Linked DNA regions of Homo sapiens: region 2 is linked to region 1. The links come from fine-mapping of genetic effects on gene expression. A gene starts in region 1. The other region holds a variant in brackets. All regions are shown on one strand. Distances are from middle to middle.

The links. PIP is the estimated chance that this variant, and not a neighbour inherited with it, causes the effect.
Region 2: its variant is fine-mapped to the expression of TRANK1 in monocytes (TOPMed, PIP 0.94).

What each region holds. Positions count from the first base shown.
Region 1 is chr3:36,940,858-36,949,464 of GRCh38, reverse strand. It overlaps TRANK1 (tetratricopeptide repeat and ankyrin repeat containing 1), which reads left to right and starts at 4,411. Exons shown (of 24, transcript NM_001329998.2): 1 at 4,411-4,678. The coding sequence starts at 4,656. RefSeq lists an enhancer at 4,244-4,313 and a silencer at 4,544-4,763.
Region 2 is chr3:36,921,223-36,929,829 of GRCh38, reverse strand. The region is part of intron 1 of TRANK1 (tetratricopeptide repeat and ankyrin repeat containing 1); the gene reads left to right. Among named protein-coding and RNA genes, the nearest start is that of TRANK1, 20 kb to the left of the region's middle. RefSeq lists enhancers at 5,331-5,830, 5,831-6,332. The variant A/G (reference allele first, on the strand shown) is at 5,254.

The sequences.
Region 1 (8,607 bases):
AAACATAACACAGAAACAGAAAAAGAATCATGGAGAATAGAGCCTATGCAAAAGGAAAAAAAAACCCAATTACCATCTGCAAGGAGATAATAAAAGATATGCAATCATGAAAAGGCAATGGGGTACTCCAACAAACGAATGCTCATAGAATAAAAAAGACCTCTTGGAAAAGTTAAAGTATGATATCAGAAACAAAAAACTCATTAAGAAGTGGAAGATAAAGTTGAGAAACTCTCCCAGAAACTACAGCAAAAAAGGCCAAAAAAGATGGAAAACAGGGCCGGGCGTGGTGGCTCACGCCTGTAATCCCAGCACTTTGGGAGGCCGAGGTGGGCGGATCACGAGGTCAGGAGATCAAGACCAACCTGGCTAACACAGTGAAACCCCGTCTCTACTAAAAATACAAAAAAAATTAGCTGGGCATGGTAGCAGGCACCTGTAGTCCCAGCTACTCGGGAGGCTGAGGCAGGAGAATGGCGTGAACCCGGGAGGTGGAGCTTGCAGTGAGCCAAGATAGTGCCACTGCAGTCCAGCCTGGGCGAAAGAGCGAGACTCCATCTCAAAACAAAAACAAAAACAAAAACAAAAACAAAACAAAAAAAAAGATGGAAAACAGGAGAGAAGTGATTTGAAAATTAAGCAACTGTATCACAGAGATCAGTCCTGGAAGTTCAATATCCTGAATAATAGGATTAAAAAGAGAGAGGGAGAGAAAGAAAATGGAAAAAAAAAATCAATAAAATAATTCAAGATATTTTCCCAGACTGAAGAGCTTGAGTGTTGAGACTGAAATAACCCACGCAGTACCCAGTGGAATCAATGAATGGGCCCACATCAAAGCAGATCATTGTGTAATTTCAAAACACTGGGGAGGAAAAGAAGATTCTTCATGCTTCCAGAGATTTAAAAAAGAAGAGGTCCTATAAAAAGATTGATGACTGATGCTTGAACCCAGGAGGCAGAGGTTGTAGTGAACTGAGACTGCACCATTGCACTCCAGCCTGGGTGACAGAGCGAGACTCTGTCTCTAAATAAATAGATAAGATTGATGATTGAATGTTTTCAGAATTCCCAACAGCAGTACTGGAAGCTAGAAGTCACTGAAGTAATAGCTTCAGAATTCTGAAGGAAAATGATTTCTATTTTTTTTTTGTTGAGACAAAGTCTCCCTCTGTTGCTGAGGCTGGAGTGCAGTGGCATGATCTTGGCTCACTGCAGCCTCCACCTCCTGGGTTCAAGTGATTCTCCTGCCTCAGCCTCCGGAGTAGCTGAGATTACAAGTGCCCACCACCACGACTGGCTAATTTTTGTATTTTTGGTAGAGACAGGTTTTCACCATGTTGGCCAAGCTGGTCTTGAACTCCTGACCTCAGGTGATCTGCCTGTCTCAGCTTCCCAAAGTGCTGGGATTACAGGTGTGAGCCACCACGCCCGGTAGAAAATGATTTCTAGCTGATAATTTTATACCCAGCCAAACTATATTAAGGATAAAGGTTTTCAGACAAGCACAGTCTCAAAAATTTTACCTGATCATGCATAAAACTGAGGGGAAAAAAGCCCCAACAACAAGAAGTAGCAATACAAACGTTATTTAGAGACATGAGCATAGGCATCAAAATAATCAGCTGAAAGATGTAAAAGTGGTTGTTTCTAGGGAAGAAGTCAGGTGGAAGGGAAAAAGGGGCCTGCTCTTTTTATTTATTTATTTTTTATTTTATTTTTATGATTGTTTATTGAGATGGAGTCTCGCTCTGTTACCCAGGCTGGAGTGCAGTGGCATGATCTCGGCTCACTGCAACCTCCACCTCCCAGGTTCAAGCGATTCTCCTGCCTCAGTCTCCAGAGTAGCTGGGATTACAGGCATGCGCCACCATGCCCAGCTAATTTTTGTATTTTTAGTAGAAATGGGGTTTTACCATGGTGGTCAGGCTGGTCTTGAACTCCTGACTCAGGGGATCTGCTTACCTGGGACTCCCAAAATACTGGGATTACAGGCATGAGCCACCACGCCTGGCTGAGGCCTGCTCTTTTAACTGTGAATGTATAACTGATAAAAATATAAAAATAGAAGACAGAGAAGAAACAGTTTTAAAAAGAAAGATAACATACTGACGTGACTTTTGAGGATTATGGTGAAGATATCCAAAGAAGATGTATGACAACAAGATTTTGAGATGCTTATGAAAACTAGTGAAAGAGTGGTCAAAGTGTAAACGGACTTTTTGGTTTTTTTAAATCCTCCTCTCTTCACCAATCCCTTGGCTTGCTCTCTTTGATGTAAGAACCTGGCTAGGCTTTCTGGAAGTAGACTCCTTGAAGTTGGCAAAAATAACAACAACAACAACAACAAAACAAAATAACCCCCCAAAACAAAAAGAAAAACAAAAAACCCCAAAACCAAAAATATCTCCGAAACCAAAAAATACCCCGCAACCAAAAAACCCCAAACCAAAACCAAACCAAACCAAAACCCAAACTGAACAAACCCAAAAATCACCAACAGAAAGAGGTATGCTAGAAGAGGTGGCATGTGCTTTCCTAAATATAGAATTGGGGGATGTTGGGAAAAGTATTGGAGGAAGGATATGGAAAGTATCCTAAAAGTGAAAGGACCAATGATGTCTGGGAAATAGCAAGTAGTCCAACTATTTGGTGGCTAGCAGTGATTCTCAAACTTTGCAGCATGTTATAGTCTTTTAAAAATCCTGATGTGGCTGGGTGTGGTGGCTTGCACCTATAATTCCAGCACTTGGGGAAGCCTAAGTGGGTGGATCACTTGAGGTCATGGGTTTGAGACCAGCCTGTCTAACATGGTGAAACCCCGCCTCTACTAAAAATCTAAAAAATTCAGCCGGGCAAGGCGGCGGGCACCTGTAATCCCAGTTACTCAGGAGGCTGAGGCAGGAGAATCACCTGAACAACAGAGTGAGACTGTCTCAAAACAAAAACAAAAACAAAAATTCCTGACGCCCATGTCAATTAGACAATTTGGGAGTAAAAGCCAAACATACGCATATTTTTGGGTTTTTTTTTTTTTTTTTGTATTTTTAGTAGAGATGGGGTTTCTCCATGTTGGTCTGGCTGGTCTCAAACTCCCGACCTCAGGTGATCCGCCTGCCTCAGGCTTCCAAAGTGCTGGGATTACGGGTGTGAGCCACCCGCCCGGCCTTGTTTTTGTTTTTAAGCTCCCCAGGTGATTCTATTGTGTAACTAAGGTTGGGAAGCACTGCAGTATAGAGTTTGCATGAGGAAGCTAAGATTGGAAATGTGGGGCAAGATTGTGAAGAAGAATCTCAAATGCCCGGGTACCTAACCTGATCTCTAGGAGACAATGGAGTGCCACTGATGGCTTTTGAACTGTACGTGATTCATCCTGATGTTTGGGGAAGATCAATGCACAGAAATCTCTGTGAGATTCTAGAAGCAAGGAGACCACTAGCTAGACTGAGACTAGTTCACAACGCAGAATGACCAGTGGAGAGAAGTATACTGTGTGCCTTAGGTGTGTCCACGTGTTACCAAAGCCTCTCTGTTTCGCTGAAATGTGTGGTCCCCCTCACTAAAGCTCTGGTGGTGTCCTCCCTGCCACCAGGCAGCCTGGTGTGGTGGTCCCCCAGAAGGATGGGCGAACCACCGGGATGCAGTGTAGGCCGAACCTTGCCCCAGGGGAGGGCGGCGGGCTTAGCTCTCTGATTGGGTGGATTCTCTGGTGTGTAGGAAAGTACTCCCAGGCCCAGAGAAGCTGTGAAGACCAAACCGGCTCCCTAGGCCGAGAACCGCTGGGGAGGTAGCAGCCAGAGGTGGTCCTCTCCGACCCACTACTCTGTCGATCATCACTGGGGAGGTGGAAAGACAAGGCAAGATCCTCATTTTGTTGCCTGCTCAGGCCTGTGCGCACTTACTCTCCATGGACACGACGGTGAGCGTGGAGCAGCCCGCGGTCTCGCTGCCCCCTTCACTCCCGGACCCCCAGCCTCCCCAGAGTGGAGGGGCAAGCACACAGTAAGTACTTGATATTCGCCCGACTCCTGAGCTCCTCATCTGTAGGAGCTAGGGGGCTTGTTCTCCGTACGTCCTTTGTTGGAGGGAGGAACGAGGGAAGGAGAAAACCCACGCTGAGGCCGTTGGCCGATCACTTTCTTTACCTCCCGGACAACATTGATGGGCCCCACTAAGGAAAGCCGAATTCTCGCATGCCCGAGGAGTGTCGGAGGTGGTTGTGCGCCTAGTCCCTCCTGGTAAAGGGTTCGAAGCACTCGTTTATTCAAAGGCGGCCGAGAGCCATACCATTTGCTTGCATGACGGGAGACACCGAAACGCCCCTTTTGAACGCGATGACAAACACCTCCTCCCACTCAGCAGCGACGTGCACGTGACAGTTTTTGGGCTCTCGCAACTACGTGGAAACTTGGAATAGGTCTGCGGCTGCACACCGCCCGGACGCCGGGGTTCCTGCGTCCCCCGCCCCCTCTGATCGCGGCTGGGTAGCCGAGCCGCAGGCAGCTGGGGGCCCCCGAACGCCGCCTCTGCATCGCGCCGCCCCTGCCCCGGGCTCCGGTAGCTTTCGGGCTTCCGCACTGCCCGCCGCGCCCTGCCCACAGGGAAGCGCTTCCCCAGGCGGCGGCGGTCCTGGTGCGGACCCTCCGGCCGCAGCCATGTGGGACCCGCGGGCAGCTAGGTGCGTAGCGGCGCGGGAAGCACTGGGGCATCTCTGGCCTTCCGGGCCCGCCACCCTTCCTGGCGGGAGGCGGCCGCGCGCGGGGACTGGCGACCCTGAGGTAGCGGCCGAACGGGCCCGCCCGGCCATCCCTGTGGGGCCCACAGCCATCTAGGTGCAGACCCGAGCCAGTTGCGCGGGGTCGGTCGCGGGGGACGGCTTCGGCCTTTTCGGTCCGGAGGGACCAGGGCACGCGCTGCGACAGGACTGCGGCGGCGCGCGGCCTGCCTAGCTCCCACCCCGGCATCGAAGCCGCAGCTCTCGGGCCCACCTCCGCATCCTCAGGGGTTCCCGGGGGCTGCCGACAGGTTCCTGACCAGCGAGCGCGCCCCCGGGGCAAGCATTCTTGGCGGGCAGAAACCTGGGAGCGGAGCACAGCGGTGCAAGGGAACCGTGCCAGGCGGGAAGGGCGGAATTTGCGGGGAACTTGGAGCGCGCTGGCCTCTTCCCGGCAGTAGGAGGCCTTCTTCCCTGCCCGCCCGATTGAGGGCTGCTGGGCTGGCTCAAACTGGACTGCACGGTCCATCAGCCTGGGCTCACCGAGTCTAGGGGGAAGGTAGTAGTAGGGACCCAAGGCTGGGAAGCGGAGCCCTTAGAAGCCCTTGCTTCTGCCTCGGAGCGTTTCCGAACCGGAGCTCGGAGTCTGTTGCCTGGGAGGCGCGTTGCGTTTCCTCCCAACTCCCTGTCTCCGTCCCGCGGGGAGCCCTGTGCACTTGCAACCCGGCTGAGATAGAGCCCATCTTTGAGGTGCAGCTCAAGCCACCTTTTCTCCCAGATCGGGGTGTTTCTGGGCAGTTGAAAGCTTTGGTGCTTCCTAGGAAAATTTTTATGGAAGTGTGCAATTTGGAAAATAAAAGAAAAAAAAATTTAAGAAGCAGAAAGAGAATGGGGCTCTGAGGTCTCTAGTTCCCCTATCTGCTCCAACCCAGTTGCTGCTGGCTCAGTTAGTCCTTATGCGGGAAGGAATAGCTGGGATTAAAGCCTTGTGTTCCCAGCGTAGGTATGCGCTCCTGCTCCCTCGTGCTGAGCGTTTTGGGTTCCAGGATCCTTTTTGATATAAGGCTGTTATCCGGATGGCATCCTGTTTGGTCCTTTATAGAAAAAAAAAAAAAGTACTACGGTGTGTGTGTGTTGGAGGGCGGGGACGGTGGTCAGGAGTTTGTTTCAACTGTTTTCCAGGCAGGTCTGTTTTGTAGGATTGCAGGATAGGTGCTTGAGTTCATATGCTCTTTGTTGGCTTTTGCATCCTCTGCGGGGGGTGGGGGGGTGGGTAGAGGTGGGATAGGTGTGTGTGGCATTCACTCCCAGAGTCGCATCCCACTGCCACTGGCCTATGTATGGGTTTCTAGGTCTTTTTTCGATCAAGACCCACACCCACCCACCTATATGTATATAATGTATATATGCATAATATGTGTGTAATATTATATATACATATATACGCACACACACATACACATGTAAAATTGCAGCAAGAGCTTCATGGTATAGTTATTCTTTCTACAGGGTGAGGCACAATGATATTTTCCATTCTATTCCCTCCCCCCACCCCCCACCAGAGGGATTCTCGCTCTGTCACCCAGGCTGGAGTGCAATGAGGCGATCTCGGCTCACTGCAGCCTCCGCCTCCTGGGTTCAAGCGATTCTCCTGCCGCAGCCTCCGAAATAGCTGGGATTACGGGGGGCCGGGGGTGGGGCGCCACCAAGCCTGACTAATTTTTGTATTTTTAGTGGAGACGGTGTTTCGCCATGTTGGCCATGCTGGTCTCAAACTCCTGATCTCAAGTGATCCACCCGCTTCTGCCTGCCAGAGTGCTGGGATTACACGCCAGAGCCACCACGCCGGCCCATTCTATGTTTTTTTTTTTTTTTTAAAGCGGGTCATAAATTGTTAACTTCACTTTATGACCGACTGACCAGCTTTATGGGGCAACTGCAGGTTCTGTTTCCGCCGCTCTCCCAGAGTATGAGGAGACCGTCAGCATTTCACAGGGGAGTTGACTTTGGAAGTGAGGACTTGGTGTAGGAGTGATGAAGTAGACTGAAATTCATACTTGAGTGATAGAATACTGTAGGACATGGCTGTGTGGTTCAAGCCAGTACCATCTACAAAGACAGACCGCAGATGCTTCTGGTTACTTTGGTTCTGGCTATGTGTCCACAGAGAGCTGGCCTCCTGCATGGATCCCAGTGGGGCCTGGTGTAAATGCTAGGGAGGTAGGGGCATAATAGCTCCTGTTCTTTTTTTTTTTTTTTTTTTTTTTTGAGGAAGAAGAAGGGAAGATGCTGCAACCCTACTGCAGCCTTGGATTCATAGTTTTCTAAAAGGATTCTTTGGGTCTTGTCTCAGAATTTCACAGCTGCAATCAAGAGCTGGACCACGATCATTTTATAGATGAAGAAATTAAGGCCCAGAAAGGCCATCACTTGTTAGTCATTACCAACGAGTTAGTGTTAGATCTGGGATTAGACAACTTATCTCTTGACTTCCCAGTCCATGGCTCTCAGGAACCAAATAGAGACTGGCCTTGTGGAAATATTAAACTTCTATTTGCTGGTTGCTTCTGTTTTCCTGAAGTTACTACCAAAGACCCATTTCTATAGTATATGCCCTCATTATTTTATCTTTGCTTTTGGGGATGAAGATTATTTTAGCAGCCAAGTAGAGCCTGCAGTCCTCCTGTTTGGGGAAGGTAAAGTGATCTGAAGAGGAGGATTTTAAGAACTGAAGTGGAGGTTGAGGTGTGGGCCTCTCTGGCCATTATCAAGTATGTGGTGTTGGTTTTCTTGACCTTAAGGAATGAACCCTCCACTGCATTTCCAGATGGGGAGGTGGGGCTGACATGTCAGTGCTTTGCCCTCAGAGTGACCGCAGGCTCATTGCTTTTAAAACAAATTTCCTTGGAGTGCTGCCTGAGGTTCCCAAGGCCAAAAGCACCCTTGTTAAGAAATCTTTACAGGAAAGAAAGACTTGGGGCAGCAAAGATGACACTGTAACAGTTACAGCAAAGACTGATAGTCGGGCTGGTTACAGCGATGGGGAGAATGGTTAAGTTTAACCTTTAAAAAAGAAAGTATTGAGCCAGATAAACAGGCATCTTTGGAACACAAAAATGTCACAGTGCCCAGCCAAGAGTGATTACTCCTTTGGTCACTCCTTAGGTTAGCAAGGTTCATTCTGCCAGAGCAGACATTTTTCTTGGTCTAAAATTGCATAAGTATTGCCTTGTTTGTTTTTGTTGAAAATCTGGAAATGTGAATGACCTTTGCCTAAGATACCCTGGACTCCGTTTACCTGAATCAATTCCATCTTTTGCTTAGATGCTGAGCCTCACAGTACCTGCCCTGTGCTCACCATAGCATGCTTGTGTGAGCTCCTGTGAGCCTGGTGGGCTGGTGGGACTCCCTGTGTGTCTTTTGGAGCCAAGCCAACTCTGGGTTTAGCTATATCTGTCTTTGAAGTTCCAGCAACATTTTGATTGGGATTTTTTATTTTTTAAGCACTGGGTCCTCCTAGCACTTGGAAAGAGGGCAGTATTCCCAGTCCGAAAAATCAGTGATGGATTTTGGAGGAAACCAGGCCAGTAGTGCACAACACATAAAATATAGAGAATTATAGCACTATATTGGGTGATCTTCATTCACTGGGGCAAGAATGCTCAGACAGCAGCCTTGACATTGGATGGGCTCATCCTTCATGTTCAGCTGTGGCCACCAGGGCAATCATTTTTGCTCACCCTTAGACTAGCTCATCTTCTGCCCATGAAGGTCCACTCTACCTGGAGGCTCAATCACTGATGACTTCTAGGGACTCATTGGCCTGAACTCATTGGCCAGGTACTAAGGCCATCTATAATCTGGCCCCCAGACTGTTTCTCTAATATGGTCTT
Region 2 (8,607 bases), 20 kb after region 1:
CAGGGCCACAGTCAAAGAGTTCTTGTCATTAGATTGCGCTCACCCTGATAATCCAGGGATAGTATCCCTAGCTTATGGTCTGTAATGATAATTACATCGGTAAACTTCCTTTTACCATGTAATGTAATATATTCATAGTTTCTGGGGATAGGGATCTGGATGTCTTTGGGGGAATTCATTACTTGGCCTGCCACATGGGGTGAAGTAGGAATTTAACTTATTTTCCAGATGTTTAGTGAGTTGTACCAAATGATTCACTCTTTTTCAATTTACTTAAAAAGCCACTTTTATTACATATGGCATGTGTTTCTGCTTTTTATACTATATATATTTATTGCTGGATATTCTACTTTGTTCCATTGATGTGCTTACTTTCATGTTAGTACCTGACTTTAACAATTTAATGTTTTATAGGCCCGGTGGCGGTCACTCACGCCTGTAATCTCAGCACTTTGGGAGGCCGAGGCAGGTGGATTGCTTGAGATCAGGAGTTTGAAACCAGCCTGGCCAACATGGTGAGACCAGCCAGGTGTGGCAGTGCGTGCCTGTAATCCCAGCTACTCAGGAGGCTGAGGCAGAATTGCTTGAGCCCAGGAGGCAGAGGTTGCAGTGAGCCAAGGTCTTGCCACTGCTCTCCAACCTGGGCAATGGAGTAAGACTCCATCTCAAAAAAAAAAAAAAAATTAATGTTTTATAAATATGTATTTTAAAATGTTAGAGAAGATTCCCTTTTCTACTCTTTTATTTATTTGTTTTATTTGATTTACTTTTATCCTTTAAGCCTCACCTGGAAGAAGATTCCCTCTTGATACTTCTCTTTTTATTAAAAATATCTTTGCAATTCTGGCTTATGTGTTCTTTTAGATAACCTTGACAGCTGCTTCATTAATTTCTTTAAACATTTTATTTTTTATAAATTGAAATTTTGCTGAAAATATACATTAATTCATTAACATGGGAGGACTTGACATTTTATAATAGTGAATTTGCCCAAACCAGAAACATGTTAGTATTTTAAAAATACTTTTTTTTTAAGTAAAGTTTTGTTTTTTCTCCATATAAGTCTTGAAAATATAAGGACATTAGTTCATATTTTGTAAGGAGCTTTTAAAAAATGCTCCTATGAGAATTACATGTATACTTTTCAAAATTAATGTTCTTCTTATTACCTTGGTTTTTCTTTGAAAATCTGTGTCTATATCCTCAGGTCACAGAGATACAAGTTATTTTAGTCCTGTATTAATTTAAGCCTGTAAACATCAAGTCATAAAGCAGTATTAGTGTAATTAAACTTCCCAGGAGTCCTGCTTCTGCTTTTCTCCCATAGTGAAATGTTCCATGTGTAATGAAGAATTTAATGAAAAGCATCTTTTGAAGTACTGGTTGGTGAAGGGACAAGAGTGAGTCAGTGTGTGGTGAGTGAAGTCCTAATATGAATATCAAGGGAAACAGGACTTTAAAGTTGGCTGTATTGAAAATTCTCAACAGCTAGTCAAATAGGGATCAGATCTGTAGAAAAAAAGACTTTTTCCCCATTCCCTTCACAAACAAAAAACCACGTTGCTTCATGAAATCATGTCAGAAATTTTTCTTCATTTTTGCTTTGCAAGGTCAACGGCGGTTTTATTGGGCGTACCTTGGTTTTGCAGGCCTTTGCTCTAGTTTTCAAGGGAACAAGTAGATAGAAACTTAAAATTAATGTATTTATGTGGGAGCTATGGGGCAAGAAACTAGTTTCCAGTTGTAATACTGTGGGCACTAATCAGGGAATGCTTGGAGAGATATGGGCTGGGTTTGCTCATCACAACCTGTGACCCCACATTCTATATCAAAATGCACCACAGAAGTAATTCCACGAGAATTTAGTTCCTGACTGCAGATATTCATCTTATGTCTTAGATTTGTGCAGGCTAGAAAGACAGCATGATTCTCTGAGGTGGGAATAGGATGGAGCATGGACATACCCAACTCCTGGGGCACTCCAAAATTTGGGGAAACAGCCCTCATACTCTCACACACAAGAATTGAAGGCTAAATTTCCACTGAGTAGAAAAATAATATTTGAGATGTTGCATCTGGCTTATTATTCTATGTGGAACTGCACTCTCCAAAACTTTCTCTAGATCTGCACTGTCAAATATTGTTGGGGGTGAGCGACCACTGGGCCAGTGGCGTGCAGAGAAAAGAATTTCCCAAGACAGTTGTAGGTGAAGAAGGGCAGATTTATTAGAGCAAGTAACTAAATGGGAGCTGACTGCCAGGAGACAAAGTCTTGCCGGGGATTTTATAGGATGGTTCTTAGGCTGCAGAATGCTACGTGGAGTTCTGATAAAACACCAAGGTTGCAGTGAGCTAACTTGCAGGTGTCTGGTGATAGTTGGGTGAAGGAAGATTGTAAGTTATTTGTGCAGGAGGGCTATGTGTCCTGGACCATGAAGAAAGGCAGACTTACAACTTATCTGTTGTCTGTTTTTGCTTTCCCTTGGTCCTGCCAGCCTGACTTCTTTTCTGCAATTAGGACTCCACATTCCTCCACTGACAGAGCAGCGATGACAAATCTTTGGCATGTGAGTGTAGGTCTCACCTTCACCTTCTTGCTGACCAGGGACGTAGAGTTGGCCCTACCTAGGATTGTTAGTCGGTCAGGAGGTTACATGGGCCTCAGTCCCTGGGTTGGGAGTTAAATTAGGCAGAGTCGCTGTGGGACCTTAGGGGAACAGCATTTGCAGCCTCAAATTTTGTTCTGCTGGCTCCAAAGGGGATTCATTAGTTCTTTTACTGGCTGATACCCTTGCTGCAGTAACATTTTGGTTTGAAGTTGTATTCTAGAAGACGCAAAACAAGATATTTCATGAACAATACAAGGTGCAAATAAACTAGTATAATCATTATTATAGGCAGGAGAAGTGGGGCCTGGCCTGACAAATAAGGTTTTTAAATATTAATGGGATAAGGGAAAATTGAGGAACAGATATAGACATATTAGTGAGGTTAAGAAGTTGCCCAGTTTCGACCCTTGTTCCTCTGTATTCTGTCCCATTTGCTGAACCATTTATAGGCATAAAGGAATCACTCTAAATTTTGCTGGCATTAACTTTGTTGTTTCCCAACCATAGAGAAAACCTGCAGAGGTACACAGTGAACTCGTTAGAGTTGTTGTTTGGCTACCATTCCTGGTACATTTGATTATAGTTAATGATGTAACTATAATGGGCTTGTGTTAAAGCCCCTAGGAAAGGGCCAGACCCCTTGGAGTTTCTGATGCAGAGGTGAGCCTTACAGGCCATTTCTGGTGCCTTCCCTATTTGCTTTGTCACGGTGGATGATTGCCATGAGGGATCGATTGGCCCAGGTCTCTCTCCTAGACCTGTGTTTTTGGTGTGCATGTAAACGGTATAGTCTAATCCAGAGTATTGGGCTTAACAATTTCTTCTGTAGATCATGGGACTGCTAAGAGTGTAATGTCATCCTCAAGTGCTTGTTTGCGAGGGCACATCCAGCAGTTAGTGCTGTGTGTTATGTTAGCAACCTGTGATGTTACTGAGTAGAGTGGATGCCTGCGTATAGCCATTGAGACAATAGTTAGCCATGATAGACGAATAAAAACAGAGCCATGTTTAGGGAAAATGACAATATACAGGAAACTCAGGAAGACAGGAAAGAAGAAGGGCTGTAAAGAGTATAAGAAAAACAGTTAAACGCAAAGTACCTCAGCACATTGTTGTTGTGGTGTGGGGGTATATGTCATTACTGGGACAAATATAAAGAAATTTTGTCTGGGCAGTAATCTTGGAAGTTTCCTTGCAAATAGCAATTGTATACTACTTCCCTTATAAAAGCATCAATATTAAGAGGGTGAAGCTGCTTAAGAGAGGTAGTTGGAGAGTTACTGAGAGCCTGCAGTAGAACTGAATAAAAAGAGTTAGCTTTAAGAATAAGATTCAACGGCCGGGCACAGTGGCTCATGTCTGTAATCCCAACAGTTTGGGAGGCCAAGGTGGGTGGATCATGAGGTCAGGAGATCAAGACCATCCTGGCCAACATGGTGAAACCCCATCTCAAAATACAAAAATTAGCTGGGTGTGGTGGTGTGTGCCTGTAGTCCCAGCTACTCGGGAGGCTGAGGCAGGAGAATTGCTTGAACCCGAGAGGCAGAGGCTGCAGTGAGCGGAGATTGCACCACTGCACTCCAGCCTGGGTGACAGAGCGAGACTCCGTCTCAAAAAAAAAAAAAAAAGAAAGATTCAAAAGAGGTATTGGACTTACTAACTTTTAAGGAAGGTTAAAAAAATTCTAGGTTCTTTGTTTAACAAAACTTCTTTTACCTTTTTTTCTTTAACTTTAAATGAGTTTCCAATGTTTACATTCTAGTTGGATCATAAATAACGAGTCTTATCTCAGCACCAGCAACTTGGTAACAGTAAATTTAAAGCAGACAGAAAAAAAAGAGGAAGATAGAGAACTTTAGATGATTCTACTTAACCCTATGGTGCAGGTTAACCATTTGAGCTCTGACTTTTTCTTATTGTAGTTTGCCCATTAGTTTAAAATGTGCACAAAACAGGCCATAATATGTAACTAGCTGGAGTTTTAAAAAGAACAATAAAATCAGAGGTTAGGATGTTGGAAACCATCTTTTCAATCTGGACCCCTAGATTGAACAGGAAAAGAAAAAAGAAAGGAACAGAGAGGAAAAGGTTAAACTTTACAGGAGAGTTTGTGTGCCTCCTGTAAAGTTTGTGTGAGAGTGCCTGGGTTACCCCCTTTCAGCCACTGAATGGTGTGGGGCCAATACCCCTAACACCCTTGTTTCTCTCCCATCAGGGAGAGCCTTAGCACCCCAGACCTTTATGGTGTGAGATGAATTCTTCCTCACCTCTGCAAGTTACCAGTTAAGGTGAGCTGTTTTTAGCAGGAGCAGAGAGCCTCTTTAGCTTAAGGCCACTGGGGTTTGGGATTCTGTCCGGGGGGGCTCCTTTGGCTCTCAGGGCAGTCCTGTTTCCAGTGGCCAAGCTTGTGGCAGAGGGGGCAAGCATGTGGGACTTTTTTTCATTTATTCAGTTGAGGTGCTTTGCCTTTTAGTGGCCTGGCCTTTCGCACCGGTGGCAGTTATCTGGAGGAGTGTCCTTAGGGCAACGAGGAGGGGGCTGGGGTCTTGTGAAGCAGCCAACAGTTGAGCCTGGTTTTTGTCTCTGCGTCTTTCTTTTTAGCCCTGTTCTCCTTATTCTGCTCTTGGTTATAAAAGACTGAGGA[A/G]GTTAATTTGATGATTTCTTTTGCATAAGGGTTATGCTGTGTTACACAAGAAAATTACACATTTCTCTTTTTTGAGAGTCTGAGAATTAAATTTGTTTTAATGCTTTAGAATGTAGCCCAGAGGTGAGTTTGAAGGATAGATGGGGTTTGTCCCATGGTGGGACTGGAAAACATGCTGCTTGGGAGCGGTGCCACTTCAGGGCACTAATTGCACTTTCTCTTGGGACATCCTGCCAAGATGAAAAGAGGGTTCCACTTGTGTCTGCTGAGGGACTTTGGGTGCACTTTCCAAAGGGGTGTTCCACCTATTAGAAAAGAGCACTTGGCTGCTAGGGGCCTTAACGCTGGACGGCCAGTCCAGGTACTCACTCTGGGTGATCAGCCCAGGTACGAGGAAAAAAGGGTAAAGGGTGATCTCACCTGGTGCCCGCCCAGGAGAGGGAGTGGGTAAGGGAACCCTCACCATTTTGAGGCTGTCCGAGGTCACCTGATTTAGCAATGTCCAAGACAGGATGGCTGGCTGACCCCACAGGAGAATGTAGAGTGAGAAAGAGAGCACCTGAGTTACCCCAAACGTGTGTGAATTCACTCTGGATGAGCTTCTGCTGCCAGATAGGAGAGAGAGTCTTCTTCCCTTCAGGCAAGGCAGCCAGCCCTGTTCACCCTTTGGCCTTCAGGCAGCACTGGAGAGCACCAGGATGGTTAAGAAGCCAGCTGCTGAAAGACTGAAAAGAGTAAGTGAACCCAGGTCCCTCACCCAATCTGGGCAGTGGCCGTCAGATGCTTCCACACAGTCACCTTTCAGTCCCACCAGAGTGTAGCTCCTGCCGGAGACCTGCAGTTGCCTCCATGCTTAGAGGCTATTCTCGGAGGGTGCTGACTGGAGAAAGGGAAAGAGAGAGGGGAGAGAGTTTCCTGTGAGGACAGTTCCCGTCCAGAGAGAGTTCCCCCTACAGGCCACCAAAATGTTGTGGGTGAGCAGTGACTATCCTGGTGGCATGGGGGTAAAAGAATTTACCAAGGCCAGGCGCGGTGGCTCACACCTGTAATCCTAGCACTTTGGGATGCCGAGGCAGGTGGATCACCTGAGGTCAGGAGATCGAGACCAGCCTGGGCAACATGGTGAAACCCCGTCTATACTAAAAATACAACAATTAGCTGGGCGTGGTGGCGCACGCCTGTAATCCCAGCCACTCGGGAGGCTGAGGCAGAAGAGTTGCATGAACCTGGGAGTTGGAGGTTGCAGTGAGCCGAGATTGTATCACTGCAATCCAGCCTGCACAACTGGAGCGGGACTCCACCTCAAAAAAAAAAAAAAAATTTACCAAGACAGTTGTAGGTGGAGAAGGGTGGATTTATTAGAGAAAATAGGAAAATATGTTACAAGAGGGCAACGGTCAGAATCAGCAGAAGAGGAGCTGACTGCCAGGAAACAAAGTCTTGCTGGGGATTTTATAGGATGGTTCTTAGGCTGCAGAATGCTACGTGCAGTGCTGATAAAACACTAAGGTTGCAGTGAGCTAACTTGCAGGTGTCTGGTGATAGTTGGGCAATGGAAGATTGTAAGTTATTTGCACAGGAGCACTGTGTGTCCTGGACCATGAAGAAAGACAGACTTATAGTTTATCTGATGTCTGTTGTTGCTTTCCCTCGGCCCTGCCAGCGTGACTTCCTGTTCCTAATTAGGACTCCACAGATAAGATAGCTACTAGCCACGTATGACTATGGAGTACTTGAAATGTGGCTAGAGTGACTGAGGAATTGAGGAATTAAACCTTTAATTTTTTTTTTTTTTTCTTTTGAGACAGAGTCTTGCTCTGTCGCCCAGGCTGGAGTGCAGTGGTGTGATCTCGGCTCACTGCAACCTCTGCCTCCTGGGTTTAAGCGATTCTCCTGCCTCAGCCTCCCGAGTAGCTGGGACTACAGGTGTGTGCCACCACACCCAGCTATGTTTTTTGTATTTTTGTTTTTTGAGATGGAGTTTCACTTTTTCACCCAGGCTACAGTGCAGTGGCATGATCTCGGCTCACTGCAACCTCCACCTTCTGGTTTCAAGTGATTCTCCTGCCTCAGCCTCCTGAGTAGCTGGGATTACAGACACCCACCACCACACCCGGCTAATTTTTGTATTTTTTGGTACAGACAGGGTTCCACCACATTGGCCAGGCTGGTCTCCAACTCCTGACCTTGTGATCCACCCACCTCGGCCTCCCAAAGTGCTGGGATTACAGGCGTGAGCCACTGCGCCCGGCCCTGAACCTTTAATTGTATTTAATTTTAGTTAAATTAAAATGTAAATAGCCATGTGTGGTTACCACATTGGACAGAATGTTCCAGATAGAATAGTAATAGTAGCCAGATAGAATAGTAACTGTCACAGAGCTAATTGCCCTGCTTTCATTTTTTATTTATTATTATTATTATTTTTATTGAGATGGGGTTTCACTTTGTCACCCAGGCTGGAGTGCAGTGGCATAGTCATGGTTTACCACAGCCTTGACCTTCAGGGCTCAAGTGATCTTCAGCCTCAGTTTCCCAAATAGCTGGAACTACAGGTGCATGCCACCATGTTTGGCTAATTTTTTAATTTTTATTTTGTAGAGATGGGGGTCTCACTGTGTTGCCTAGGTTGGTATGGAATTCCTAAGCTCAAGCAATCCTCCCAGCCCAGCCTTCTAAAGTTTTGGGATTAAAGGTGTGAGCCACCGTACCTGGCCTGCTGTGCTTTTAGTTACAAGTAACAGAAAGCCTAACTTAAACAATAAGGATATGTACTAGCTCACCCTGTTGTTTGGCAAACCCAGCAGCTCCTACCTACATTCTCTTCCCTGGCCACCTACCATTATAGAGCCACATACTTATGTTTTTCTAGATTCCTATTTCTGACTAGTGAAATGTAGAGAAGTCTACTTGGGGGCTTTGGGAAAGTTTTATGAAAGAGATACGTGGTACCAGGGAGCCAGTGGTTGCAGGGACCCCTTCTTCCTGTCTTTAATGTGATGCCTGGAGTTATAGCAACCTTCAATCTTGAGGGGACAAGCATGAGGGCACAAAGCCAGTGTGCTTAGGATGGTGTTACAGAGAGATAAAGAGCTGTACTCTTACTCCCTTACTTCTGATTCTGTGAGAATGTTACAAATAAATTTTCGGTGCCGCAAGGAAATAGCACTGGAACATAAATTTAATTTTCTCAGCAAGGCAATTTTTACTTCTATAGGAGGATGTGACTCGTGAATGGAGTAATGGTGAGAGCACACCTGGACAGGGGAGGGGAAGGGATTCTTATTCCTGTCGCAGGTAGCCCCTACTGCTGTGTTGTTTCCCTATTGGCTAGGGTTGGACAGCACAGTCTAA